Linked DNA regions of Homo sapiens: regions 2 and 3 are each linked to region 1. The links come from fine-mapping of genetic effects on gene expression. A gene starts in region 1. Each other region holds a variant in brackets. All regions are shown on one strand. Distances are between the middles of the regions.

Region 1 (10,011 bases):
CCTTAAGTTGCTCTTTTTTCCCCTGCTTCATTTTCCCTTCATACAGTTGCTCTTTAAGAGAGGAAAATGGGATGTAGAGAGATCATGGTACCATAGAAATGTCAGCTCTAGGGCTGCCCACCCAAGTCCTGGGCCTTTAATAAGAGAACATCAGATGTACAGAAAAGGCCAGAAGAGTCTAAGCCCAGGAAAAGACTCCCTCAGCTAAATGAGGAAAAGAAGTTTATCTGCCTCATTCCACATTGGTCACTCACCAATAACTGTAAAGACAGGGACTAGAAGTGGTACCTCTCCTTGTGGGAAAACTGGTAAAACCACTTTTGGGAAGACTGTCAGCTGGCCATCAAGGTACGCTTGACACCAGGGACAGCAGGGCCTGGGAAGCCCAAGCGAAAGTAAGGGGACGCCCAAGCTAAATTTTGTCTCTTCAGGCTTAGAGCCTTCTTCATTTTTTTTTTTTTTTGACATTAGGCTACTAATCAAGATGGGTAACTGATATGGTTTGGGTCTGTGTCCCCACCCAAATCTCATGTTGAATTGCAATTCCCAATGTTCAGGGAGGGACCTGGTGGGAGGTGATTGGATCATGGGGGCTATTTCCTCCTTGCTATTCTTATGATAGTGAGTTTTCACGAGATCTGATGGTTTAAAAGTGTGTGGCACTTCCCCCTTCACTCTCTTTCTCTCTCTCCTATCACCATGTGAAAATGTACTTGCTTCCCCTTCACCTTCTGCCATGACTGTAAGTTCTTGAGGCCTCCCCAGCCATGCCTCCTGTACAGCCTGTAGAACTGTGAGTCAATTAAACCTCTTTTCTTTATAAATTACCCAGTCTCAGGTAGTTTTTATAGCGGTATGAGAGCGGAACAATACAGTAACCAACCCTCTGCTCACTGCCCCCTCAGATGCATTCTCCAAAATTGGTCTTATTTTAAACTGAATGGACTAGAAAAAAAAGAGACTTCTCTTCTTTTGTAATACAGCATGGCCCCAAACAATACCATTTTATTTATTTATTTATTTATTTGAGACGGAGTCTCGCTCTGTCGCCCAGGCTAGAGTGCAGTGGCGCGATCTCCGCTCACTGCAAGCTCCACTTCCCGTGTTCACGCCATTCTCCTGCCTCAGCCTCCCAAGTAGCGGGACTACAGGTGCCCACCACCACACCCGGCTCATTTTTTGTATTTTTAGTAGAGACGGGGTTTCACTGTGTTAGCCAGGATGATCTCGATCTCCTGACCTCGTGATCCGCCCACCTCGGCCTCCCAAAGTGCTGGGATTACCGGTGTGAGCCACCGTGCCTGGCCCAACAATACCATTTTATAATTAAACCTTTTTATAAAAGGAAAGGAAGGTCAGAAATTCCCCAAGGGCCCAGGGCAACCTGACATTATTCCTCCCTCTAACCAAACGGTTTTACATTAAGACAAGTCTCTGCCAGACGCAGTGGCTCATGCCTGTAATCACTTTGGGACTTTGGGAGGCCAAGGTGGGAGGCTGTCTTGAGCTCAGGAGACCAGCCTGGGCAACATAGTGAGGCCTTATCTCTATTAAAAAAAAAAATTAAAACCCACAAGTGTCTTAGAGACCAGTGACAAATGTGTTATGCCCATGTTGTTCAGAAGGGTTCAAGGGAATCTGATGTAATTCATGACACTGTATTAGGAAGTATGCCTCCCACTAACAGCTCTCCTTCTTCAAATCTAGTCCAAGGATCATTCCTCAAACCTCTAGAGCCTCTACTCCTTCTAGTGGTCCTTCCTCACCAGACTTGCAGTCTTCTACTGCACCTCCTCCATATCAACCCATTCACCCAGCACTCCCAGAAGGGCCCAGTCGCGCTAGGACACCCACTCAAACCAGAAAACAGGCTACTCCCTCGTAGGGAATTAACTAACAAAGAGGCAGGGACCATTCGAGTTCACATTCTTTTCTCAATGTCAGACTTAGCCCAAAGACTAAGCAGTTACCAGTTGATGTTATGCACTGCAGGGGACACCAAAGAGGGAACTCTACAACAATAAAAAAAAAAAATGATAATTTAGCAAATGCAACTGCTCAACAGGCTGTGTCCCTTCCATTTGTAGCAGGGGCTCCCATCCCAGAAACTATGGCTCCTGAGCTAGTGCCTGCACACACACAAACTGAAAGGGAGTGGGCAACTGAACAGGGATAATACCAAGACCCTAATGATGGTGGACCCAAAATTCAAATTTTTTTTTTTGAGATGGAGTCTTGCTCTGTCGCCCAAGCTGGAATGCAGTGGCACGATCTCGGCTCACTTTAAGCTCCGCCTCCCGGGTTCACGCCATTCTCCTGCCTCAGACTCCCAAGTAGCTGGGACTACAGGCGCCCGCCACCACGCCTGGCTAATTTTTTTGTATTTTTAGTAGAGACAGGGTTTCACCGTGTTAGCCAGGATGGTCTCGATCTCGTGACCTCGTGATCTGCCCACCTCAGCCTCCCAAAGTGCTGGGATTACAGGCGTGAGCCACCGTGCCCGGCCCCAAAATTCAAAAATTTTAATACCTCAAGGTCATCAATGCAAATTAATCAAAGGGGGTTACAGACACCTAGGAAGGGGCTCTCTAACGCTTTGGTCACATGAACCCTTAAGGGAACAGGCTTAGCTACTACTGTAAAAGCACACACTACAGCGAGACCACTTTACTCTATCAATAACCCAGAAAGGAAAATAAGGCCACTTCCATTACTGATGCCAGTACAGAGGAGAGGAAGGTACCCAGGGGAAGACAGACAGTTAGACTTTCCCTAAGTTCCACCAGTATAAAGATTTAAGCACTTACTGATCTCTACAGATACTTTCATGGGATAGATTGAAGCCTACTCCACCAAAACAGAAAAGGCACAAGTGCCTCTTAAAAGAAATCATTCCCCGATTTGGGCTACCTATGTCACTCCAAAGCGACAATGGCCCCTCCTTTGTTTCCAAAATAACCCAGCAAGTGCTACCACTCTAGGAGTAAGTGATCATTTACATGCTTCCTGGAGACCTCCATCCTCAGGAAAGCTAGAAAAAGCTACTTGTAAAGAAAACTCTGGCGAAGCTCTGGCAAGAGACTTCTGAGTCCTTATTAAAGTGATTGCCTCTAGCGTTCCTCCAAGTAAGAGCGGCTCCCAAGACCAATCTGCAACCCAGCACCTTTGAAATATTATATGGTCCTTTTGAGTCTTCACAGGGGTGCCTTGTAAAGGCATTAGAAAAATATACCAATGTAGATGCTGTCTCTGAGGCAGGTCAAATTCTTCTGGGGACTCATTTTATTAGTCAATCTGCTCCAGATATTAAGAGAAAGTTACAAAAACTGGCTGTAAGTCCCCAGGCACCAATGAATGAGCTAATTAATGTAGCCTTTGAAGTCTTCTATAATGAGACAGAGTAGAAGAGGCTAAAAAGTGAAAGAGGGAAGAGGCAAGAGACATAAACCAGGCCTCCGATTATTGGCCCTTGCTATCAGAGAGAACAAGCCAGTCCAGACCAAGCCCCAATCTGGGGACACCTGCTACACTTAAAACCAGGACACTGGCCCCAAAACTGCCAGACCAAGGGACAAAATGCCCAAAAGTCCGCTCCACCTAGACCATATCCACAATGCAGAGATGCCAGTCACCGGAAGCAGGACTGCCCCCAACTCCGTAGGGAGACAGGGGCTTCCAATTCCTTGATGGCCCTGACTAAAGACTGAGGAGACCCAAGGCTAACACTGGCTGTCATTCAGTCCCCATTACCACAGAGGAATCCAGTGACCCTGCACGTGGCAGGTGTAGCTAATTTTCTATTACATACAGGGACCAGCCTGTCAGTCCTTACATTCTGCCGTCGACCCTAGTAGGCCAAATAGGCCAAACACTGCACTGCCACGGGAATTGATGAAAAACCCGGACCAGATACTTTACCCAACCTTTTTACCTTTTTTTTTTTTTTTTTTTGAGATGGAATCTCACTCTGTTGCCCAGGCTGGAGTGCAGTGGCACCATCTCGGCTCACTGCAAGCTCCGCCTCCTGGGTTCATGCCATTCTCCTGCCTCAGCCTCCTGAGTAGCTGGGACTACAGGCGCCCACCACCACGCCCGGCTAATTTTTTGTATTTTTAGTAGAGACGGGGTTTCATCATGTTGGCCAGGATGGTCTTGATCTCCTGACCTCGTGATCCGCCTGCCTCGGCCTCCCAAAGTGCTGGGATTACAGGCGTGAGCCACCGTGCCCAGCCACCCAACCTTTAATTTGCAGACTCAAGGACGTGAATGCCTAACTCCCTTGTTGCTACCCTCGTTGGGGGCTTCTTTAAAACCAATGAAACCAACTGAACCCCTTCTCATAGGAGCACTCTCAAAAGCCCAGCTGACCACCATAACACACCATAGTCCAGAGAATCCAGGACATTGCCAGCTGGGTGCATCTCTCTAGGATAAAAACTGTTTCCCTTACGTTTCCACAGGACTCTACATCAACAACTAAAAATTAAAAATCCTTTTGTAAGCCTATAGAAGACCTAACATTCATTTTCAAGAAAAGATGCCAACACCCCAAATAAAGAGATTAATATTACTTTAACATAAGGTAGTCCCATCTCAGGTCTCCTATTTGTAGGAGCTCTTTTTGTTCTTCTGCTTGCTGAATAATGATGTGATGCTTCATTCTGCTACCTTTCATGGGACCTACAATAGCCATCTTATTACTACTGACCTTTGGTCCTTGCTTGTTTAAGCTCCTTTAAAGTCTGTGTCTTCTAGGTTACAACAATTCCTAGATTGATAGTTATGCAAGGATTTCAACTTATCCCAGTGGAGGATATGACCCCTATCACTTTAAATCAGGCAAGAAGAGACTTTCGGGCCCTGGTCCTGTCTCAGCACGAAGCAGCTCCAGAAAAAATGACCCAGCCCTCCACATTTCATAAGAACATGGACCCAAAGTCTCTGAGGGGGAAAATGAGGTCGGTTAGATACAGTGGTCATAGCCTCCTTTAAAGGGGAATGAACTTGCCAGATTGATGTAGAGAACAAACCGCCCACTGGTGCATAAACTGCATCAGGCTCCTAGTTAGAACATCCTGCAGCGAAGAGGATGAACAGCAGAAGGGAAAATCCCCAAATTCACACAAGTGCAGAAACCCATGATTAGAGTGTCCTTGGAATGACCTATGCTCATTTTAATGCTAAAAAACACACCCCTGGGTGAGGAATTAAAATGCTAATGAGACATGTGATGTGGTGTACTAGCACGCACATGCACATCTGGGAGACCCCGTAACATGCTTAACAGTAATGCCCATTCCCGCTCCTTTATGAATAATTATGTAAATCTCCCATAAAGGGAAGCTCATCACTGCCAAACAGACACAGCTATCTCACACGTGTGTGTGTGTGTGTGTGTGTGTTAGAGATGGGGGCTTGCTCTTTCGCCAGGCTGGAGTACAGTGCCACGATCTCGGCTCACTGCAACCTCTGCCTACGCCTCCCAGGCTCAAGTGATCCTCTCACCTCAGCCTCTGAAGTAGTTGGGGCTACAGGCACTGCACCACTATGCCCGGCTTTTTTTTTTTTTTTTTTTTTTTTTTTTTTTTTTTTTTTTTTTTTTTTTTGAGACGGCGTCTTGCTCTGCTGCCCAGGCTGGAGTGCGGTGGCGCGATCTCGGCTCATTGCAACCTCCACCTCCCTGGTTCAAGCAATTCCCCTGCCTCAGCCTCCCGCGCAACTGGGATTACAGGCGCACGCCAGCCACCAAGCCCGGTTAATGTTTTTTAATTTTTAGTAGAGACAGGGCTTCACCATGTTGGCCAGACTGGTCTGGAACTCCTGACCTCAGGCAATTCGCCCGCCTCGGCCTCCCAAAGTGCTGGGATTACAGGCGTGAGCCACCGCGCCCTGCCCACGCCAGGCTAATTTTTGTATTTTTAGTAGAGACGGGGTTTCGCCATGTCGCCCAGGCAGGTCTCTCACTCCTGGGCTCAAGCAATCGTCCCGTCTCAGCCTCCCAAAGTGCTGGGATTATAGGCATGAGACACCGCGCCAGGCCACTGTCTCACTGTCTTGGTAAATGCAAGCTACTACAAGTGCGCGTGACCCAGGACTGCCTGGGGGCAGGAGCTTCCGCCAGCCAATTCCCGCGCACGTGGATGCGCACGTGGAGGGCGAGCAGGAAGAGGGCGCGCACGTGGAGGGCTAACAGGAAGAGGGTGCGCACTTGGCCGGCGAGCTCCCCAGCTGGCGGCGGCGGCGGCTGTGAGCTGGCCGCTTGGTTTGGAGTCGGAACTCAATCCCCAGAACTGGATCTTTAGGTTCCACGTTGGCGGCCCTGGATCTAGGGACGCAACTCTTGGGGTCCTCCCACTGCGCCGCCTGGGGAGCCTGCTCCTGCTTCCTTTCCCGGCTAGCTGGCCCCGTCCTCTGAGGCCGTGCGAATTCCCGCCACCCTCCCTCACCCCGGAGCCCTGCCCTTCCCGCCCTATGTGGCCAAGGCTTCCAGGTGCGGGCCTCGCTCCACAACTCAGGAGGCAGGATCAGCGGCTCCATTTTACAGGTAAGGAAACTGAGGCCGAGGAACCGCAGGGGCGCGTGGTTAGCGCTCAGAGAGCACTCGACTTCCCTGGGACTCCTGGCTGGTCCAGGCCTTGCAGGTCAGCCCCGGTGCGGCCGCCGGGCTACTCTGGCGCTTTTCAGGTTCCTGCGACCCCGCGTGGTTCGGGTTCCGACGTGAGCCGGGCCCTCCTCTCCACAGGCCACTGCGCGGCCGGCCTTGGTGGGGTGGAACCTTAGATTGGTTTGAGAACTGGTTTATGTTTTGGTTGATGTGGCATGTTTTGTTTTGATTTTTAATGTTCCCCAGGGTGCAAAGGGTAGCTGGTGTTTTCTTTCCAGAAAGGCTTTCTATTCCCAGCCCCTGCCCGGTTTGATGGATGTGGAGTTTATGATGCTGGAGACCGTTTTCTTTGTGGGTAGAACGCATCTCCTTTCATCTTTCAAATTGTGAGCTCAGTCCTTGCTGACAGGAGCCGCTGCTCTCGCCAGCATTCCCAAGCTATTAAATATTTGTTTAAAAGGATGGATATAAAACATGATGTTAGGAATAAGGCGTCTTGAAAAAGCAGTATTCGCAGAAACAGCACCATTGTAATATTCTGAATTCATCTTGGCTCTTTTGACATCAGGGCCCAAAGCACTTGGGATTCCGTAATTATTTGGCCTCATGCTACACTTTAAGACAGATTATTTTATTTTTCTTGTAGTCAGGAAAGTAAAAGAACAAAAAAACTGAGATGACATGTTGAAATCTCACTGCGAGGACGCGAGGGAGGATGAGGGAAGCGGGGAGGGCGGCTGAACGCTAAAGGCTGGGGCTGGGGTTTGCAGGATTCGGGGAGACAAGAGCCCAGGCAGAGGGATGTGCTGGGCAGAGGGGGCGCCATCCATGGGCTGCATTGTAGAGTGAGCATGGCCAAGTCAAGGAGCTGAACAAGACGACTTCAGTCCTGAACCTGGAAAGAATGTGAGATGGAGGAGAAACAGGTCCTGGCTGGCGGGTATTGGGCCCCAGGAGGGAAAGAGATAACAAAGTTAAGTTTGGAGACTAACGCTGTCTCCTGTTTGACTGGGGGGCCTTCATATCCCCTCCCACGCTGTCAGGACACGTACTGTAGGCACTGGAGCAGGTCACACCAACTAGAATGATCGGTTTCCATCCATTCCGGGATGCATTTTTGTTCACATTTTAGCAGCTCTGAAGTTGGGCTGGGTCCCACAGTTTGTGTCTTTCTTTGTGTCATCGTTCACTTGGCAGCTTTTTGTCGGTCTTAGTGGCACAGAAAGTCACAGTGCCTTAAACCCAGCAGCATCTTAGCTGTGATGAAGGAGTCAGCCATGGCCTGAGTCCAGTAACTGCAGGATCCAGAGTTGGAGACGCAGGCAGAGAAGATGACCCACCTCAGCCTGCACCCTTTTGTTGTTTATGTCTTTGTCTTTGAAAGTGCTTGTTTCAAGGCATGTGAGGGAGGGGATTGGCAAAAGCAAAAACCTGGAAACAACAGATAGACAAATGAAAAATGTGTTACTTTGTGGTTGGGAGAGGGAAGAAACAGCTGGTAGCTGCATCTCCCTTCCAGGTAAAATTGGAATGCCATATAATCACTGGTAGATAGCACCTTTGAGTGAAAGGCATTTTGCAGCAGCTAGAGTCAGCTGCCCACTGAGCAGGCAGCCCTGGCCCAAGAGCCTCATAAGCAGCCAGCCAGTCTGAATACGCTGATTGGGCCAGTGAGCCCCAGGCTTCATCATCTGCTTGAGTCTTGGTGAGCCCTGGGTCTGTCCTATGACAGAAACTTCCTGCTGCTGTAAGCTCCTCTAGGGCAGAGACTGCATCTTCCTCATCCTTGAGGTCCCAATGCTCAGCATACTGCCTGACACATAGAAGATGCTAAATTGGGGTTTGTTGAGCGGGAACTGTATTGAACAGGTTGGGCAAATTGTCTTCCTGGTGGCGGAGTGAAAGTTTTTATGTACCACTTTGGCAGGGCACAGTGGCTCACACCCGTAATCCCAGCACTTTGGGAGGCTGAAGCGGCAGATCACAAGGTCAGGAGATCGAGACCAGCCTGGCCAACATGGTGAAACCCCATCACTACTAAAAATTAGCTGGGTGTGGTGGCACCTACCTGTAATCTCAGCTTCTCAGGAGGCTGAGGCAGGAGAATCGCTTGAACCCGGGAGGCGGAGGTTGCAGTGAACCGAGATTGTGCCATTACACTCCAGCCTGGGCAATAAGCGAAACTGTCTTGGAAAAAAAAATTCATAGCAGATTTATTCATAATACCTTGAAACAAGAAATAACTCAAATGCTCATCAACAGCGGAATGGATAAATAAGTAGTAGTTATTCATATGATGAAATATTGTATAGTAATAAAGATTACTGAACTGCTGCATGAACTACTGCTACAGGCATATAGCATGCAACAACATACATTTAGCAGTAGTTCGTGGATGATTTTCACATGCATAATGTTGAATAAAATATATGCAGAAGTGCACAAAATTGATGATTTGGCTGGATGCAGTGGCTCACGCCTGTAATCCCAGCGCTTTGTTAGCTGAGGTGACCAGATCACCTGAGCCTAGGAGTTTGAGACCAGCCTGGGCAACACAATGAAACTGTTTCTACAGAAAAATATAAAAATTAGCTGGGCATGGTGGCACATACCTGTAGTCCTAGCTACTCAGAAGGCTGAAGCAGGAGGATTGTTTGATCCCAGGAGGTTGAGGCTGCAGTGAGCTGTTATCACACCATCCGAGTCTGGGCAGCAGAGCGAGACTATGTCTCAAAAATATATATATATGATTTTATGTATGTGAAGTTCAAGAACAGGCAAAATAATCGGTGGTGATAGAGGCAGAGTAGTATAACCTTTGGGGTTATTGACTGGAGGAGGTACTTCTAGAATGTAAGAAATATTCAATATGTTGATCTGGTAATGGTTACCATATGTATGTATATGTGTATATATATGCACACACAGACACACATTTATACTAAATGTACACATATGTACATAAAAATCAATCATGCTGAACACTTAAGATTTGTGCATTTAGAGCCAGGCATGGTGGCTCATGGAATCCCAGCACTTTGGGAGGCTGAGGCAGGAGGATTGTTTGATCCCAGGAGTTCAAGGCTGACCTGGTCAAGGTAGCAAGAACCCTGTCTCTACAAAAATATTTTAAAATTAGCCAGGCATGGTGGTGTGTGCCTGCAGTCCTAGCTACTCGGGAGGCTGAGGCAGGCGGATTGCTTCGGCTCAAGAGCTGAAGGTGGCAGGAAGCTATGATGATGACAGTACACTCCAGTCTATGTGACAGAGAGAGACTATATCTCTAAAATAAAATAAATTAGACTGGGTGCAGTGGCTCACGCCTGTAATCCCAGCACTTTGGGAAGCCAAGGCAGGAGGATTGCTTGAGCCCAGGAGTTCAAGACCATCCTGGGCAACATAGCAAG
Region 2 (10,011 bases), 75 kb after region 1:
TCAAGTAATCCTCCTGCCTCAACCTCCTTAGTAGCTAGGACTACAGACAGATGCCAACACACCCATCTAATTTTTAAATTTTTAGTAGAGACAAGGTCTCCCTATGTTGTGCAGGCCGATCTCAAATCCCTGGGCTGAAGTGATCTTCCCACTTCAGCCTCCCAAACTGCTGGGATCACGGGTGTGAGCCACCATGCCTCAGCTTTTTGGTCTTAATAATTCATCCTTTCAAGACAGATTTGAAGCTACCTTCTCCATATCCTAAGTTTATGACTTCACTCCTTCATCTGCTAGCCATGTTAAACTGTGATTTCATGAATCAGTGTCTTTTGTGGAATCTGTGGGTAGCTCCAGGGCCCATGGCAATTGCCCTTTAAATGCCAGGAAATGAATGAAACAGAGCATCTTGCGCCTGCCTTTCAGGCAGCCACGTCAGCAGGGTGATGCTTTGTGCCAAGAGCTTTACTAGGAAGGAGGGTGCCTTATCGGGATCAGTGTTATTGATTTTATTTTTCTAAATAGATAAAAGCATTCAAATAAAACAAAATTCGTAAGGTACCAAGGAGTACCTTTTTGAAAGTACTCCTTTCAAATTTGATGTTGAAAATGCGCTTCTTCCCCTGAGCCAGAGCCACCTGGCTGGCCGCCAGCCTCTGTCTGCGTGTGCACGTACCCGCCGTTTCCGCACCTTCTTTGCTCTTCAGGGTGTGTTCTGGCCGTCATCCCTGATTGGGTTGTAAAGGGCTCCTAATTCTTTTTTCCTGCCGCGTTGTACTCACTGTGGGTCTTCAGTGAGCTGCTGCTCCACTGTGCTTCCCGCGGCGGCCACAGAGCTTACTGGCTGCCTTCACTGGTGGCTGCCCCACTGGGCTCTGTGCCCAGACTGACCCCAGGAAGAAGGGCAGATTGGTGTACGAAGGGCTGTCACACTCTTTGTCTGCTCGACTGACTGGTTAAGCACAAAGCGAGAACTCCTGCTGACACTCATGCAGTACACCCGCAGCCCCTGCCTCAGCGTTCAAGACTTCATGGGATGCACTGCAAATGTAAGGAAGAGCTGGGCCTAACCATGAAAAATGAAAGTGAATACTAAGGCAGACCACCTGAAACAGAGCCAAGGGGAAGAGGAGGTTCTTGGAGGAACATCCACCTTGGGAGGTGGCGCCATTGGGGCAGCTCAGGCAGCTTTGGGAAGAGCAGCATGCCATCCCCACTTCTGTTCAGGGCTCCTGCAACTGCTTGCACTCTACTGAAAGCTGATGTCCCAGGCTCTGGGGATCCTCTTCCTTCACTGCCTGCGGCTATTCATTAAACATCCTGTGTGCGCTGCTTCAAAGCAGAAGGTCAGATGAAGCCAGCTCCCGCAGGCTGCCTGGTCAGATGGAGGAATGGACAAAGCCTGCGTAAAACGGCTCACGAAACCAGCCCTGACAATGACGTAGAGTTCCTTGCCTGGCAGACCAGAATCAATCCGAAAGGACAGTGCTGCCCAGTGTTGGCAGGATGTGAGGAAACAGGCATATGCTTCCCTGCTCATGAGATGCGGTCAGTAGTCCCTCTGGAGGCCAGTTTGGCAAAATCAAGCAAATGACTTTAAAATGTGCACACCCTTCAAAAAGCTAGATCGTTTTCTGGGGAACTAGATGGCAAAGATTCATTGACAAGGATGTTTGGCATAGCAATGTCATGATAGTGAAGAACTGGAAATTGCCTCAGTGCCCCACCATCGATTCAGTTCTGCCCGTGCTACGGAGTATTATATGGTACCTAAAAATGATGTCACAGGAAAATGGGAAAGTTAATGAAATACGCTGAGTGGAAAAAAGGCTTTGAAGCCATATGTAAAGTGTGATGCCAATTCTGTTTAGGGGAAAAGAAAGGCCATCTTTGGGTGTGAGGTTAATAGGAGTGTTTTTGGTTGCCTAGGGCTTATTTCCCCCTTTCTTTTTTTCTTTTTCTTTTTTTTTTTTTCCCACTCTGTCGCCCAGGCTGGAGTGCAATGGCACAGTCTCAGCTCACTGCAACCTCCGCCTCCCGTGTTTAAGCGATTCTCCTGCCTCAGCCTCCCAAGTGGCTGGGACTACAGGTGCGTGCCACCACACCCAGCTAATTTTTGTATTTTTAGTAGAGACGAGGTTTCTCCATGTTGGGCAGGCTGGTCTTGAACTCCTGACCTTGTGATCTGCCCGCCTCGCCCTCCCAAAGTGCTGGGATTATAGGCGTGAGCCACCGTGCCCATCCTCTTATTTCCCCTTTCTAAAGACCCTGTCGGCCTCCAAGCTCCTGCTCTTACCCCCACAGCCAGTTCTCACCAATTAGCCAGAATCACTTCTATTTAATAAGTTTTTAAAGTTTTGTTGGCTGGGTGCGGTGGCTCACACCTGTAATCCCAGCACTTTGGGAGGCCGAGGTGGGTGGATAACTTGAGGTCAGGAGTTCAAGACCAGCCTGGCCAACATGGTGAAACCCCGTCTCTACTAAAAATAGAAAAAAAAAAAAATTAGCTGGGCATGGTGGCATGCACCTGTAATCCCAGCTATTCAGGAGGCTGAGACAGGAGAATCATTTGAACCCGGGAGGCAGAGGTTGCAGTGAGCCGAGATTGTGCCATTGCACTCCAACCTAGGAGGCAGAGTGAGACTTCGTCTCAAAAAAAAAAAAAAATTTGGTTATAGATAATTTCAAGACATATACAAACGTTGAGAGGCTAGTAAAATGGACTCCATGTACCCATTTTCCATCTCAGCAAACACAGCCGTGGAGACTCCTCCTTCCCTCACCCATTGCCCCCCACCCCTGCCCCACATCATTGTGAATCAGAGCAAATGATTAGACTTATTTTATTCAGTACGTGTCTCTAAAAAGATAAGGTCTTGGTGGTTTGTTTGTTGTTGACAGAATCTCTTTCGCCGAGGCAGGAGTGCAGTGGTGCCATCCAGGCTCACTGCAGCTTCGACCTCCTGGGCTTAAGTGATCCTCCTGCCTCAGCCTCCCGAGTAGCTGGGACTACAGGCATGCACCATCCCACCTAGCTAACTTCTTTAAGTTTTTGTAGAGACAGGATCTCCCTGTGTTCCCCAGCCTGGTCTTAGACCCCTGGGCTCAAGTGATCCTCCCACCTTGGCTTCCCAAAGTGCTGAGATCACAGGCATGAGCCACAGTGCCCAGCCCTTGGTGGGTATTTTAAAACATAATTACAACATTATGATGACACCTAAAACACTGAACCATAAAAGAACTGTCATAAGCAATTGAGTCACTTCCCTGCTCCAGAATCTTCCAAGACTTTGCATCATCTTGGAAGGAAGCCTGGAGTCTTTAAGGTGGCCGCTAAGGCCCCTTTGCGGTGTGGCCCTGCCCTCTGCTCTTCTTCTCCCTGTCCCTGCGGTGCACTGGGCACTTGTGTCTTGATGCCCACCCTCCCTCATGCCCGCACGTTGGTAGGAGACTCCCCCCTTCTCATCATGGTGGTCTCTGCTCACATGTCACTGCCTCAGAGAGGTTTCACCTGATCCTTTTTTCCAAATGAGCTGCCACCTCAGGGCTCTGCACAACCTCCCTTTCCTTCATTTTTCTCCACGGACTACCAGGACCAGAAGTGAACTATGACCAGCCCTCCCCATGAGTATGAGCTCCCTGGGCGGGAGGGCCCCGTCCATCTCCCCCATGTCTGCATCCTCAGCACCCAGAACAGAGCGTGGACTAGAATATCACGGGTGCTGAGTAAATATTTGGCAAATAAGTAAAAGCCAACAATGTTTGGCTCTCTTCTGATCTCTTCCTGTGATGGAAATACATTGAGGTTTGCGGGGGGTGTGGGCTTCCTTCCTGTGTTGAGGAGGCGTCTTCCTCGCACCCTCCTCTGCACAGAAGCCGGGAGTCAGGCACTCCTTTGTTCCACCTCTGGGAGCGAGACCCAGGCCTAACCACTTGGATGCTCCTGAGGAAAGGACTCAGGGACGGCAGTCCTCACAGGCTTTTCTGGCCAGGGACCCTGCTGCTCCACACCCCTTGGCCAGGTTCTCCATCTTCCTGTGAATTCTGGAGCACCCCAGGATCCTCTCAGTGTTCTTATGTCTGGAGCAGCCAGCCAAGCAGGTTCTGTGTGGCCACCAAGGAGGAACTGACTGATGGAGCGGAAGTGCAGACAGGCTAGGGAGAGAGCAGCCTCACGCTCGTCAGGTCCTTGCGCACTGGGGATAAGAGCTGGGACAGGCGCAGATGCACCGTGGCTTCCCTCGAAACCCTCGTTTCCCTCCCATTTTGTTCACTTCCTCACTGTGGGGCCAGAGGGCCCCACCTTTCCTTCTCCCCTTACCACTGCCCGGCCCTGGGTCAGCTCCTGGACCCCTTCTCCACTGTGGACTCCCTGCCTGCCTGTTCTCAGACTTGAAACTGCACGGCCAAACAGTGATGCCACATGCATGTCCCTTGTCCCCACCTTGGCTCTTGACCCCTTCAGGCTGCCCGGAGCCACAGCGAGTTCCTGGCCAGCCTCCTGGGGACCTTAGCAGACTCCATGCTTCCTGCTGCTGAAGCCTCTGCACTCCCAGCGAACAGCCACCCCCACTAGACAAACGCAGTGCTCTCAGTTCTCACCTCCCTGCTGCCCACTGCACCCTTAATTCTGGATCCTGGCAGTCCTGCCTCTCCCAAAACCTTCTGCAGTCATCCCTTATTCTTGTACCGTTTGCTTTTTGTTCACTAGCTTTCTCTGCAGCAAATAAATGCGTTCCTGCGTCTCCTACCTTAAAACAGCCGTTCTGTCTCCACCCACATCTCCCTCGAGCTCCTGCCGCAGCTCCAAGCTTCCTCCCCCAGTTCTCTTTCACTCATGGCTGAATCCTGCCCACCCTCGGGCAGGTTGGATTCTTCGGAGCTCAGAGTGTCACAGAGAGCTCTCACTGTGGGCGGGTGAGGCCAGAAGGTCTGGAAGGAGGCAGTCAAGGCCCAGTCAACCTGGAGATTTCAGAAGGGCACCAAACCTGGAGGAAGGAACAAGAGGCAAGATGAAGGTCGCATCCGGAGCCTGGGCTGGAGCTGGGAGGCAGACAGCAGCGTGAAGGTGGGCGGCGGTCAGGCCATGATCGCCAGGAGGGGGACATGGCTGGAGAGGACGCGGCTCCCTCTCAGGTGGGATGTCTGAAGGACCTAAAGGGCCAGGAGCTGAGGAGACACCTCTTG[G/T]GGCACCAGGCACTCCAGCCAAGCTGCTCCGTCACCAGGGACCTCTCGGGCTCTTCCTGATGAGCAACCAGCACTTCCTTCCCTGGGCTTCCCAGGGCCCTCCTGGCTTCCTCAGCTGCCCTCAGGGATACCCCTCCCCCACCAGCCCTCGAGTCTTGGTGGGCCTCAGGATTCCACCCTAGCCCTTACTGTGACACAGGCCCATGAAGTCGGGGGTGCTAGGTGCCCCCCACTTGCCCCGATCCAGGACTGGGGCACTCTTTCCACTGCTGGGGGTGGCAGAGGAGTCACCTCTGCCAAAGGTGGTCACCTTACCAGGGCTGGGCCCCTTCCTTGGCAGCAGCCCAGTGCTGAGACACAAAGATCTTCCCCGTTGCCTTAGTTGAGGATGTCTCCGAAGGACCCTGCTGGCTCCGGAGTCCTTGTGGGGTCAGCTGAGGCCTTCACTGGCTGCGTGGCAGCCTGGTTTCCTTTGTCTCTCCCCGCATAAATTCCCTGCATCCTCTCTCCCTACGTAAATTCCCTGCTTGCTAATATCCATTTCAGAGCCTACTTTCTGGGGAAGCCAGCCTGAGACACCATCTCATCTGCACCCGAGGCCTCAGCTCCAGGCACATGCTAGCAGCTCCCAAATGAATACCTGTGGCCAGACTTTGCTGCTGAGCACCTATCTGTGTGGCACATGTCTGGGATTCAGCATGTGGGAAGCAGGAGTCACCGCCTTCCCAGGAGGACCCCTTCCCTGTCTTCCATGGCTCCATGAGTGGCACCAGTGTCTGCCCACTGCCCAGGCCTGGAGTCCTATGGACAGATTCGGTGCCCTGGAGCTCCCCAATCTCCCACAGTGCTCATTCCTCCTCACCCTCCCTGTCGCTGCCTTGGTGCAGCTCTTCCTGCAACCCCCTTGGATTTCCGCCAGAGCATCCCACTGTCTCTTTCCAGGCTTTCTCCACCAGCTCCACCTTGTGCTGTCCCGGAGTGTGACCGTCCTTCAGATGCTCATGTGTTCGCATTGCTGATGTGCATAAAATCTTTCAGACTTTCCCCCTCAGGGTGAAATGCCACGGTGCAGCCTGGGGTTGGAGGGCATTGGTGCCCCCTTTCCCAGGCTCACATGCCACCCTGCTCCCTGCAGGCTTCCACGCTTTTGCCGCGTCCTAGAACTTGGCAGCCACCCCAACTCAAGATGATCATTTGCCTCCAAGCTTTTCCGCATCTGTCTCCTCCTGGAGAGGCCTCTTCCCATTGTCCTCCTCTGCCTGGTTCACATCTCTTCAGCCTCAAGACGAGGCTCCGGCCAAGGCATCTCCTCTTCGAGCAGCCCTTGTTGCAGGCCCATCAGGCTGTCCCCCTCACTGACGCGGGCCGTGAGCATCAGAGGGACAGGTGCTGTGGCCGTACTCCCTGAGTCCACAGAGCCTGGCATGGCAGGGGGACTCACTCAGCACACTCGTGCTTTGTCTGCTTCTGGAGGGTAGATTTCAAAGAAGCATAAAGAGGTAGAACTTAAAAAAAAAGATTCTAGGGCCAGGCACGGTGGCTCACACCTGTAATCCCAGCACTTTGGGAGGCTGAGGCAGGTGGATCACTTGAGGTCAAGAGTTCAAGACCAGCCTGGCCAACATGGTGAAACCCCGGGTCTACTAAAAATACAAAAATTAGCCGGGCATTGTGGTGTGCACCTGTAGTCCCAGCTACTCAGGAGGCTGAGGTTGTTGTAGTGAGCCAAGATCACGCCACTGCACTCCAGCCTGGGCGACAGAGCAAGACTGTCTCAAAAAAAAAAAAAAAAAAATTAAGAAGAGAGATGTCTCAGGTGGGCTGGGAGATCTTGCACTGAAGCTTTGAATATGGATTACAAAGGAGCCCAGTGAGGAAAAGAAGGGAAGCATTAAAGGCTGCAGGGGCTCCCCTCAGAGCTTGTTCGTGGTCTCAGGTTTGGAAAGAAGGGCACCAAAGTAAGGTAGCCGGACAAACGGCGTGGACCAGCGGGAGTGTTGTTGGGAAATGCCGAAGGCCATAAAAGGAGTTTCTGTGTAGTTACTTTTGAAGCAAGGAGTGCGGTTTGGGGCTGACAGTAAAACGTTAGCCCTGATGCAGACGGAACAACACTACACAATTCGTATTTTGCTTTTGCCGTCTTTGTCAAGGAGAACAGTTTTTCATTTGGAATCAAATATTGGTCGTCGAAGGGGGTTAAAGCCTAAGAGAGTGTGGGAGGCTGCATGACCAACCTCACTGTGCAGAGGAGGCCGTCTCCCCGGTGGGACGGCGTCTCACTGCTCCTGGGAGACATGAAGTTGGGGCCGTGGCTCCATGGGGACTTTTGGAGGCGGAGGGCTTCCAGGAGATGGGGGCAATGGTGCTTGATGTGCTCCTCCAGGTTATTCTCTAGGGGATTCCGGCTTGGGAGCACATACGTAGAAAAGGAAACACTGCTTTCTAGGAGTCCTAACAAGAAATCATACCAGGCAAGCCTCACTTTTCCACAGGTCAACCAGAATCATACTCCAGAGAGGACTGTGCAGTGCCTGTATGTAGGTTTCCTGGGCATTTGGTAGAGGCTGTCACCATAGGCTGGGTTCGGCATGAAGGAATGCGGGTCAAATGATGACAGAATGAAGTGGGCTCATTATCAAAAGGTGCTGCTGGCCATCAGAGTGTGCCCAGAGGGCAGGCCCTGTCACCACCCCGAGTTCTGTCTCCACTCACAGGTTGGCCAGGGCAGGCCCAGTGTTTTGGATGAGGCTATTAATGGAACAATGGTCAGATTCACAGATGACATGAATACAACTGACAGCAGACCGAAGATCCCAGAAGATCTCAACAGACTGTAATGATGGACTGAGTTGAAAAGGGAGGCCCAGCTGCACAATTAAGAACAGGATCTGGGAAATGGGATTTGACAGCAAGACGTGTGAAAAAAAAAGACTTTGGGCTCAATCTGTTAACTGCGTTGTGTTGTGGGGCTGCCAAGAAAATGAGCATCAGCCTCAACTCCGAGTGTCGCACTTGAAAGGGAACATTGACAACCCCCAGGGCCGTCAGAGGACCCAAACCAAAATGGCAAAAAAAGATACAAAAAGATGGGAATGAGGGGGCTGTGGCACCTGCAGGAAGGGGCAGCCACGGGAATGTGGCAACTTCTTCCAAGCGTAGAGGACCTAGGTTGGCGGAGAGCTCCCTCCTGGAGGCCCCAGAGGACAGGATCCAGAAGCTTTGAGTGGAAGTCCCAGAAGGGCAGGTTTTGGCAAAATATGGGAACGATTTCCTTTGGTTAGTCCGGTAAATGAATTTGGGCTGTCTTGGCAGATACTGCACTTCCTTTGCTGAAGTGAACACTTATTGGGGGTGTGGCAAAGAGAATTAAAATGGATAACTATGCAGAAGCTAGATTAGGTGACTTCAAGGTGTTTTCTTTTTTCTTTTTTCTTTTTTTTTTTTTTTTTTGAGACAGAGTCTTGATCTGTCGCCCAGGCTGGAGGGCGGTGGCGTGATGTCGGCTCACTGCAACCTCTGCCTCCCAGGTTCAAGTGATTCTCCTGCCTCAGCCTCCCAAGTAGCAGGCATTACAGGTACCTGTCACCACACCCGGCTAATTTTTGTATTTTTAGTAGAGACGGGGTTTCACCATGTTGGCCAGACTGGTCTCGAACTGACCTCAGGTGATCCTCCCACCTCAGCCTCCCAAAGTGCTGGGGTTACAGGCGAGAGCCACTGCGCCCAGCAGACTTCAAGGTGTTTTCTAAGCCTGAGGTTCTGTGATTTTTATCATACAAAGAGGGAGATGAGAATGGAAGTTGGTATGATTGTTCATGTGTACCTTTTAATTTACTTATAATACGTGTGAATGGAAGGACCCATATCATAGGTGGACACTTCGTGCCCTTTGCAAAAGAGATCATCCATGTACCACCTGACCATGGGACAGAATGTCTGCCGCTCCCCAGAAGCCCCATCAGGCCCCTGCCAGGCGTTCCCTCCTGCAGAGGTAATCACTTTCACAGCTTCCATCACATAGATTCATTTTACCTGTTTTGTTGGTTGGTTGGTTTTTGAGAGATGGGGTCTCCCTATGTTGCCCAGGATGGCCTCGAACTCCTGACCTCAAATGAGCCTCCTGCCTCAGTTTCCCAAAGTGCTGGGATTACAGGTGTGAGCCACTGTGCCTAGCCCAATTTTGCCTGTTTTTAAACATTTATATAAATGGGACCATGCAGAGCATTCTCCCTTGGGTCTGGCTTCCTTGGCTCAACACCTGGTTTGTGGGGCCTCTCCACGTCAATGTGCGTGGTTATATATAGACGGGTTCCTCATGTTGCCCTGTGGTGGTCCACTCGTCTGGGTCTGTGGCCGACTGTGTCCCGCCGTCTATTCCCGTCCACACTCTGTGTGCTCAGACTGGTCTGTGGATGACCAGGCAGTCTGGTGGCTGTGGGCTTGCAGACCCCCGGGAGGGACAACCAGCTTCTAAGCCCACCCCCTTGTTCTTCCCACCTGGCAAGTGCGCAATGAAGAGTCCAGGGAAGGAGTGCCGAGCAGGTGGCTGACAGGCAGCCTGATGGACAAGAGGCCCGGGGTGCGAGCCAGGCGGACGCCCTGAGGCAGCATGTCAGGCAGCATTGCCACGGTGGAACAGGCCACTGCCGTTGCTTCCTGAGCTGCCCTGGAGACTGGAAAAGGCAGCTCATGCCTTTGGCCAGGTGCCTGACAGCCTTTTAGGGCAGTTCAGTCTTGGCAGGGCCCAGTTCTCCTCCCAGGGAGTGAAGACAAGGGGCTCCAGAGGGGCTGTGCTGGCCTATGTCACTGCCCGACATCCCAGCAGCC
Region 3 (10,011 bases), 940 kb after region 1:
TGTGTTAAGTTATGAGATGTTTAGAGCTGTGTGTTACAGCAGCGTAACCAAGCCTACCCTGACTATTACACAGGGTCAACCTCACCTTTGTAAAATGGGTAAGAATGATACCACCTGGAATGATTATTGTGAGGTTGAGTGAGAGGATATATGACTTGGCTGAAGGGTACACTTAGCTCCTGGACCCCACACCCTCTCCAAAAGCAAGGAATGTTGCCATGGACCAAGAGCCAAGCCCAGGGACATTTGATTGGCCACTTCTAGCAGAAGAACTCCTGTAATGCTTAGCAAAGTGTTAAAGGGTTGAACACACAGGGGAGGGGCCTGACCTGTAATGCTTAGCAAAGTGTTTAAGGGTTGAGCACACATGGGGAGAGGATGGTGGAGGCCTGGGCTGTGCCCTCCGGAAATGCTTGGCCAGCTCCCTCTCTCTGGCTTCTCCAGTTCTCTTTTGTCCCCAATATGGGGAGAGAGGCTGGGGGCTGCTACCCCAAGTCTTGCTGGCTGGAGCCGTGAGCATTGCTTGTGGTGGTGCTGGGCTCTGGGAGGGCTTCCCTTGGTTCTTGAAGGCCCCAGGCCATAAGTGACTCTTGTGACCCCATTAGCAGCACAACTTTCCCTCTGCCCCCTCTGTCCCATAGCAGCCCCCAGCTTTGCCTCCTGTCCTGCCACACCTGGACCCCACCATCTTTCCGTCATAAGCCTCCAGCCTGTCCCCTGAGCTGGCCCCACTTCCCTCCATTTGGGAGAAGCCGTGGAAGCTGCTGACTGTTCCCCCCTCGTTTTTCAGCCTGTTCCCCACTGTTCATGTTTGGTCTACAACATCAAACCCATTTCTTTTTCAGCTGATCTCATTTCTCCTGAGTTTCTGATGCTCTGAGTCCAAAGCCTAAACAACCGTATTCTTTTCACTCTCCAAATACAAAGCCCTCTCACCCTGGCTCGGCGGTTGGCTCCCTGCTCTGAGCCAGCTCACCTGATCCTTTAGAGGAAGAATGTTCGAAGCACAGGCTTTAAAAATGTCCTTCCTAGCTTGTGCATATTCTATTTGCACTTCCCCACTCACTCAAGAAGATGCCATTTCCCCCACAAAGCTGGGAGCCTTAATGCCCTTCTCCAGCACCCATCCTGCCCACCGTGGCTGAGGTCACAGCTCTGGGCTTTGAAATGCACAAACACAATCAGAGGTCAACTCCTGTCATTTGAGGATCCCTGATTAGAAAAGAGCTTGATATACAAGCAGGGTATGTATGGAAATAAAAAAATTAGAAAAAAGAGAAATAAAACTGGACACACAGATCAGCAGGGGTTAGCGGTCTCCTTGTCATTGTCACAAACAAACCCCTGTTCTGGTTCATGCCAGCCACTGCCACCCTTACAACCAAAAGTACAGTCACTAGGCCTGTGCTGTCCAGGGCAGCAGCCACTAACCATGTGTGCCTGATGAGCACTGAAAAGGAGCTCAGAAATGTTGAGATGTGCTGTGTGTAAAATATACACTGAATTCTAAAACTGGGGATTAAAAAGAATGGGAAACACCTTCTCAATATTTTGTATATTGATGACACATTGCAATGATAGTATTTTGAATATATTGGGTTAAAATATGTTATTGAAATTAATTTTACCTGTTTTTTTTCTTTCTTTCTTTTTTTTTTTTTTACATGGAGTCTCGCTCTGTTGCCTAGGCTGGCGTGCAGTGGTGCGATCTTGGCTCACTGCAAACTCTGCCTCCCAGATTCAAGTGTTCTCCTGCCTCGCCTCCTGAGCAGCTGGGATTACAGGCACCCACCATAACTCCTGGCTAATTTTTGTATTTTTAGTGGAGACAGGGTTTCACCATGTTGGCCAGGCTGGTCTCGAACTCCCAACCTCAAGCCATCCACCCACCTCAGCCTCTCAAACTGCTGGTATTACAGGCATGAGCCACCACACCCGGCCTCTTTTTCTTTCTTAATGTGGCCACTAGAAAACTTAAGATCCCCATTGCAGTGCATGTTGTATTTCTGTCACACACCGTTGCACTGGGCACCACTCTGTCACTCCTGCCATGCGGAGTCCTGCTCTTGGAATGCCGTGTTTTTGTTTCTCACTGCTGCTGTAACAAATTACCACCAGCTCAGTGGCTCAGAACAACACACATCTATTATTTTGCAGTTCTGGAGGTCAGACTCTGACCTGGGTGTCACTGGGCTACAGCAAAGGCGTCATCGGGGCTGCGTTCCTTTCTGGAGACTGTGGAGAAGAATCTCTTTCTGTGCTTCTCTGAGCTGCCCACATGCCCTGGCTCACAGCCCCCTTCCATTTCCAAAGCCAGCAATTGTTGTGAGGCTTTCTCACACTGCGCACCCTCACGCGGACTCGCCTACCTCCCTCTTGCACATCCCACCTGAATAATTCAGGATAATCTCCTGACATCGAGGTCAGCTGATTAGTGACCGTAATCCCATTTGGGCCCTTAACTTCTCCTTGCCATGTAACCTAACATATTCATGGGCTCCAGAAATTAGGACTTGTACATCTTCAGGGCCCTTCTTCAGCTGCCCACATGCCAGTGCCCCGTGCGTGTGTTTTCTTGTTCTGTGCTAACTGGCCAGCTCTTGGAAATGACTGGTGTGGGAACACTTGCTTCATTTTCTCCCTGTTCTTGATTATAGTCCAGAGATCTGCTGGGGGATGGTGTGAGCCCAAAGAAGCCGATTTCCTTCTTGAAGGGGGTGAGAAGAAGGGAGACTGTGACTTGACCAAGCCAATCGGCAAACTACCTTCCCTCCCAACAGAAGTTGATTTGTTCAGGAGGGGGCATGTGACAAAAGCTGGGCCACTCAGAGCCCATCTAAGGACTTCACTGAAATGCTGACATAAAGCAGCCACTTGTGCCACAGGGGGAAAGCCAGCCTCAAATGAAACTGTCTCACAAAGAAATAGAGATGAATGACTTGTAGAGAACTGGAAACAGAAACAAAATGAAACTTGCAGAGAAAATATTGCAAGTAAATGTTGAACCTCTGGATCGAACCATGCCTGAGTCCCTCCTGGCTCTGACTTTTCAGTTAGGTGGGTCCACACATTCCCTTTTTCAGCCAAGCCATTTGAATGGGATTTTCTGCTCTTTGCAAAATAAAGATTTGCGATGACTTAGAGAGGGGTTAAAGCCATATTTGATCTGGACACATGAGAGTACCTGAAGCCTGTCCTCACCCAGCTGTCTCTTCCCACTGGTCTTTGAGGCACAAGTCCTAAAGGAATGCCCTGTCTCTCTTTCCCCCAGATCTCCAAGAGGACCCTCCTGCCTCTGCTTCTCTTCCTCCCCTGAAGTCAATTTTGCAGTGTGCTGGTCAGCCTCATCCAGCCCCTCTTTTCTGGGAACTGCTCTAACTCGATGGCTGGATTGACTGGCCAAGAGACAGACATCAGGGTGAGCTGGATCATCAGACAGTCTCTCCTAGGAATGTGAAATACGAATTCAGAGAGGCTGGCAGCCCATTGTTCACGGGAATGCAGAAGCTGTGAGGCTGAGAAACCCCTTTCCATCCAGAGGGAAAGAAGGTATAGTGGGTGAGGGGAGAACAGCAGAGGCAGGCAACCCTGGGGCCGGGGAGCCAGAAGGAGTGGCTGCCTCTGTCTCCAAGGGCTTGCTAGCTTGAGGTCAGGTCCTTCCTGAGGTCTGACTGCTCCTCTTGCCCATTGGGTCTGAAATAAATTAATTATCACCCGCCCTTTTTCCCTATAGATGAGTTGAATCAATTTCTATCACTTGACATCAGAAGAGCCTTGAATAAGCCACACTTCCCATTCCCATGCTTGCCCTAGGACCCATTGCCCCAGATGGGGAGAAGGCCAAGTGAGCACCCGGCCTTCAGGAACCCTCATGGAGGCAGTTCTCTTCCCCCACTTTCTGCCAGGCAGGAGAGGCTGCTGAGGCTGCAGCAATGACCTGGGCTGCCTGGGGTTACTGAAGGCAGCAGGAAGCAGTGTTGGGTTGAGTCCCAGGTTTCCGGACTCCACACCTGGTGGCCGACGCAGCTAGCTACCTAGTCCACAGCCATTCTCCCCTTCCTCTCCCTCAAAGCCAAAGGTGGTTACACAACACAGTACAGCCCATGACAGGCATCTTCAGAGTGGGGCTTCCAGGACAGCTACTGCTTTCCTGTTGGGCCTGGTGGCTCTTCACTGTACCTTTCCCCTTCCCTATATTCCTCCCTGGGGCACAAAGTTCTGCCTGAAGGTGTAGCAGCAGGTATTTGTGACCCTGAGGATGAAGGCACCTGGTGAGGATGTCAACACAGGGAGCTGGAAGGACCCTGGTCCCCTATAGCCTCACCACAGCCCCAGCAGTGGGACCATCATGGATCCTGACCTTTGGGCTTCTCATTACTCAAGGAATAGAAAAACCCCAAATCGTGTTTGCTTAAGACCCTCTTGTCAGGTTTCTAAGTCTTTATTATTTGCAATTATAACTGATAATTTCCTATGTCCTCTGGGAATTTGGGTCATGGGTGGAGTTTTCTGGCGAGAAGAAGGGCTCAGGGACTCTCTAATTTCATCATTTTGCCCAGGGTCCAGTTTCCTCTGAAGTTTGCAAGGACA[C/A]ATGGAAGGTCAGCAGAAACTTGGCCATCTCAGTGTCCTGGTGGGTGATTTTTACGAGGATTTCTCATCACAGAGGATGGGAACCCAAAGGAGAATGGCCGCCATTGGAGCCTTTCCTGTCCCTCCACTGCCCAGAACAACTGAACTCTGTGTCAGTTGGGCTGCAAGTAAAGAAAACTCAACTAATGGAGGCCTCATTGAACAGGAGTTCATTTTACTCACGTAACAAACCTATGTGGTCCCAGGATTGTCTCACGGCCCAGTAAAGGCAAAGCATGGCGTTAGCAAGTCTGAGATGTTCTTGAATTTCCCCCCATTGCTGCAAGATGGCCCCTACAGCTCCAAACATCACATCCTCAATGGTGAATAAAGCTGATCTCCAACTGGGAAGAACTTCTGTCTCCTGGTGTGGTGAAGGCTGTTGGAGCATCTGCAGGAGCATCCAAACCCTGTGCTATTGGGGTAGTCCATGCCCTTCAAGCCAGTCATGGCTTTCCTGTTTCCTCTGTCAAATACTGGCTAAGGATAGGTCTGTGATGCAATTCTGGCCAGTGAGACATGATGGAAGAGCTGCTGGGTGAAATTCTGGGAAAAGTTCCCTTACTCTTTAAAAGATGGATCCAGGAGAAGAGAGTCTCTTTTGCTGGGTGTTGTCATATCTGGAGGTGATGCCTGGAACTGTGGCAGCTGTCTTGTGATTATGAGGGAAGCTGGCCTGAAAACAGACTGGCCCACTGAAGAGGAGGGCAGCATGGAATGTGGAATAAACCTGGGTCCCTGTTGGCTTCCTGCGGCCCTGATCTAACCAGCCCTGAGCTGTCCTACCTCTGCACTGCTTGGCACAGGAGACACATCTTGATTGTTTAAGCCCCTTTGAGTTGGGTTTTCTGTTCCTTGCAGCTGACAGCACTCTAACCAATCCACACATTTCCCTCTGCTCGATTTCCTGCTCCAGAGAGACAGGCACAGACCAGTACCGGGCAGCCCCACTCTGGGGAAAAACAACAGTGCTTATTGTTTGCCGGCACAGTGGGAGCTCTGCCTCCTGGCACAGTGGGAGCTCTGCCTCCTGTGGCAGGCTGGCCATTCCAAAACCACACTGCCTGCCACTGCCATAAAGAGGCCAGGACTGTGTTCAAAACCCCAGGCAGCAGGAGGAGTGGTTTGTGGGAGGTGTTGTGGTAGTGCATAAAGGAAGGTCATTTCCTGACCCTCAGAACCCACACTGCCCTCAGCCCCACACAGCCCTACCCAGCCCAGCATCGCCCCCAGTGCCCCTGGAGACAATAATGGCAGCCACCCACTGGCTGCTCCTGTGCGGGCAGGGCAGGAAAGCTGGTGGTTAAGTGCTGGAGAACCCCCAGGCCCTGGGGCTTGGCCGGAAAGGATTTCTGTAGAGACAGCGTGGACATTCTGTCCTCTGCAGGCCGCCTGGTACAGGATGAAAACAGGCCGGCTCAGTACTTTTTTGGCAACCGATTATATAGATTTGCATCCACATGAGCTCCCTCTTGCAATGACCCAGACCCCCACGAGGGCTCTCCCCACAGTCATTTGTGTTGAGAACGCTCTGAGCCCTTGAGCCTCCTTCCTCTCTGGGAAAGGGACTTTTTGGCAGTGAGAAGGACCTGGAGGGAGGCACTTCTGGAGGCATTTCCTTTCTGGGAGGAAATGCTCCAGGGCTCTCCTCCATCCACCAACAGCCTCCAAGTTGAGTAAGTGGCAGCGAAGGTCACGCCTGAGCTGGCAGCCATGGAACCTCACCTCCTGCTTTTCCAGCTTCGTTCCCAAAGACGTCCCTCCACGAGCTTGTGCTCATGCCATGCCTCTGCTGGAAGCCCTTGCTGTCTGCAGGTGGCGATGTGACCCGGGCCTGGCCCTGGGGATTTGTTCAGGCGTGTCACTCTTTCTGACCAAAGGGGACCAGCCTTGGGGCTTTTGTGGAAACCTCTGAGAAAGGGAGGTCCACAATTCTGGTTTCCTAGCTGGAGAGAATACGCCTGGCCCTGCTGGCAACCATCTTTCCCACCCAAGGGAGTCAGCCTGGACATTTTAGTCACTTGAGTCAATAAATTCTGTTTGCAAAGAAAAAAAAAATCGCTTTGAGCCGGGCTTTCTGTGGCTTACAGTGGAAACTCATTAGTAATATAAATGCAGATATCCCTCTTAGGCCAAAGTAATCTCTCCTTTCTTGCTTGCTCTATACCACACACACCTGCTTCATTGGCATTTACTGTTTCCCCACCTGCACGGGTGACCTTAGCCCCCCTGCACAAAGGCCTGGACGTCGCTGCCTCTGCAGCTGCCCCAGATCCAGGTGCCGTTAATTTTACCCTCAAGTTGCGCTGAACTACTCAGTGAATTATTGTTGGTCCAATAAAACCACTTTTGTTTTATTTATTCTTTTATCTCCACACTCACTCCCATTCCCTTCCCCTGCATGGGCAACATGCTCCCCATAGATTCCCCCACCTCCTGTGCTGCTTTAAAAATGCTCTTTCAAAAGAGATACAGTCTTTATGTGTTTTTTAATGTCTGCAAATGGTAATGTTTGGGTTCCCATGTTGCTTCTTCCTTTTTAAACTCAGCCCTGTGTTCAGGCCCATCCATGTGGCTATGTGTGCCTTTCATCTCTCCTTGTGGCTGCATAATTCTCCATGGTGTGGACCATTCCCATTTTGTCTCTCCATTCTCCCCAGGATAGAAACCCTAGGGTGCCTCCCGCAGCCCCCATCCCCACACTACCACAAAGAACTCTGCAGTGAACATCTTGGTGTGCATGTTTGACGAATCTGTGTCAATTTCTTTTACATCTCTACCTAGAAATGGAATAGCAGGGGTGTAAGGGATGCATACTATTGATCAAAATCCCTCCACAATGGTGGCTCTGGTCTATACTCCACAAGCAGTGCCCTCATCAACTTCCCCACTTCCCCACCCAACATGAAGACTTCTTTTTTTTTTTCTTTTTGAGGCAGGGTCTCACTTGTTGCCCTGGCTACTTACAGGTGCGATCATAGCTCACTGCAGCCCCAAACTCCTGGGCTCATGGGATCCTCTCACCTCAGCCTCCTGAGTAGCTGGGATGACAGGCATCTGCCACTGTGCCCAGCTCCAATACTTGTCTCTTCCTAGATTAGTTTTGCCTAAAAGATTGCATTAGTTTTCTACAGCTGCAGAACAAGTTAACACAAATTGTGTGGCTTAAAACACCATTTATTTTTCATCTCCCATTTTCTGTGGGCCAGGATTCTGGGCTCGGCTTAGCTGGGTGCTCTGCTCAGACTGTAACCCGGTGTTGGCCAGGCTGCATTCTCATCAGAGGCTCCACTGGAGAAAGATCTGATTCCAGGCTGCCTCAGGTGGCTGGCAGTATTCATCTCCGAGTGGTTGTAGAACTCAAGGAGACTTGCTTCTTCAATGTCAGCAGGAGAGATAGTCTCATACCTTTACATCCTTTTTTAAAGGGCTCACCTGATTAGATGCACCCTGGATGATGTCCTTTTTCATTAACATAAAGTCAACTGATCAGGGACTTTAATTACATTGGCAAATTCTTTTCCCCTTTTCCATATGGCACATCATCACCTTTGTTAGAATCTATTAATTAGAAGCACATTTACCAGGAGAGGATTACAGAAGTGCTTGCCTATTGGAGTTCAGCTGAGAATTTTGCCTACCATGTATGTATAAGGTTGTATCTGGTTCAAATTGTAGTAAAGCACACAGAACATAAAATTTCCCATCTTAACCACTGTTAATTGTACACTTTAGTGGTATCAAATACTTTCACATTGTTGTGCAACCATTACCACCATCCATCTCAAGAACTCTACTTTTGTGAAACTGAAACACTGTGTCCAATTAGATACTAACTTCCCATTCCGTTTTTGCCCCAGCCCTTGGCAATCATTCTATTTTCTGTTTCTATGAATTTGATTATTCTAGGTATCACATGTAAGTGGAATACTGTCTTTTTGTGACTGGCTATTCCACTTAGCATAATGCCCTCAAGGTTCATCCACGATGTAGCCTATCACAGGATTCTCTCCCTTTCTAAGGCTGAATCATATTTTATTGCATGTATAGACCACATTTTGTTCATGCATTCGTCTATCAATGGACACTTGCTTCCACTTTTTGGTTCCTATGAATGCTGCTGCTATGAACTTGGATATACAATATCTCTTTAACATCCTGCTTTCAATCCTTTTGGGAATACGTCCAGAAGTGGAAATTCTTGGTCATACGGTAATTCTATTTGAATTTTTTTTTAGGAATGGCCATGTTGTTGTCCACAGTGGCGGCACCATTTTACATACCCACCGGTAGTGCACAAGGGTCTAATGTCTCACTCCTCACCAACACTCGGTATTTTCGGGTTTTCTTGACAGTAGCTATTCTAGTGGGTATGAAGTGCTATCTCACTGTAGTTTTCATCTGCATTTCCCTTATTCTGGGTGATTCTCAGCACCTTTTCTTGTGCTCATTGACCATCTGTGTATCTTTTTTGGAGAACTATTTCCTCATATATCTTATTGTTAGAATGTGTATTTCTGTACTAATGATCTTAGCCACTTCCTCATATGCTTCCTGGCTTTTGGGGTTTCCTCTCCCAAAAACTGCCTGCTCGTGTCCTTTGTCTATTTATTTTTCTTGTTAATTTTCAGGAGTTCCTCGTATATTGAGGCCACTAATCTCTTGTCAGTTTTAGACTGCACATAACTTCTCTCATTTTGCCATGTGTCACTTGCAACAGATCTATTTGATTGTAACATCATGAAATCCCCTCCACTTTTTCTGCCTTATGGTTTCTGCTTTGAAATTTTGTCTAAGAAATCTTCTACTCCTTTTGGTAAGTTCCCCTGTGTGTTTTGTTTTCTAACATGTTATAATCTGGCTATTCATGGTGGTCATCGTGAAAAGCAATCCCATATAAGGTGGATGCTCAGATTACGGATTAAAGAATCAATTAGTCACTTCCAAGATGGCCAAGTAGGAACAGCTCCGTTCTGCAGCTTCCAGTGAGATTGACACAGAAGATGGGTGATTTCTGCATTTCCAACTGAGGTTCCTGGTTCATCTCACTGGGACTGGTTGGACAGTGGATGCAGCCCATGGAGGGTGAGCCGAAGCAGGGCGGGGCATTGCCTCACCTGGGAAGTGCAAGAGGTCAGGGGATTTCCCTTTCCTAGCCAAGGGAAGCCGTGACAGACTGTACCTGGAAAAACGGTACACTTCTGCCCAAATACTGCACTTTTCCCATGGTCTTAGCAACCAGCAGACCAGAAAATTCCCTCCCGTGCCTGGCTCAGTGAGTCCCATGCCCATGGTCCTTTGCTCTCTGCTAGCGCGGCAGTCTGAGATCGACCTGCGAGGTGGCAGCCTTGTGGGAGGTGGTGGAGGGGCGTCTGCCATTGC

Direction of the effects. Positions count from the first base shown, and alleles are read on the strand shown. Sizes are in standard deviations (SD) of each study's normalised expression. Not every link is listed here.
As copies of T replace G in region 2, the expression in cerebral cortex of the gene that starts at base 6,205 in region 1 goes down (moderate effect, 0.41 SD a copy in GTEx).

What was found. PIP is the estimated chance that this variant, and not a neighbour inherited with it, causes the effect. A credible set is the group of variants that fine-mapping cannot tell apart.
Region 2: its variant is the best candidate, but not a certain one, in a credible set for the expression of FAM178B in cerebral cortex (GTEx, PIP 0.83).
Region 3: its variant is the best candidate, but not a certain one, in a credible set for the expression of FAM178B in sigmoid colon (GTEx, PIP 0.71).

The regions. Positions count from the first base shown.
Region 1 is chr2:96,982,774-96,992,784 of GRCh38, reverse strand. FAM178B (family with sequence similarity 178 member B) reads left to right here and starts at 6,205. Exons shown (of 17, transcript NM_001122646.3): 1 at 6,205-6,544. The coding sequence starts at 6,472. RefSeq lists enhancers at 6,127-6,647, 6,648-7,168.
Region 2 is chr2:96,907,766-96,917,776 of GRCh38, reverse strand. The region is part of intron 12 of FAM178B (family with sequence similarity 178 member B); the gene reads left to right. Among named protein-coding and RNA genes, the nearest start is that of SEMA4C, 43 kb to the right of the region's middle. RefSeq lists an enhancer at 3,854-4,541. The variant G/T (reference allele first, on the strand shown) is at 5,185.
Region 3 is chr2:96,045,664-96,055,674 of GRCh38, reverse strand. LOC105373494 (a long non-coding RNA gene) reads left to right here. Exons shown (of 4, transcript XR_923085.3): 2 at 2,658-3,057; 3 at 3,272-3,549; 4 at 4,560-6,228. Among named protein-coding and RNA genes, the nearest start is that of GPAT2, 16 kb to the right of the region's middle. The variant C/A (reference allele first, on the strand shown) is at 4,591.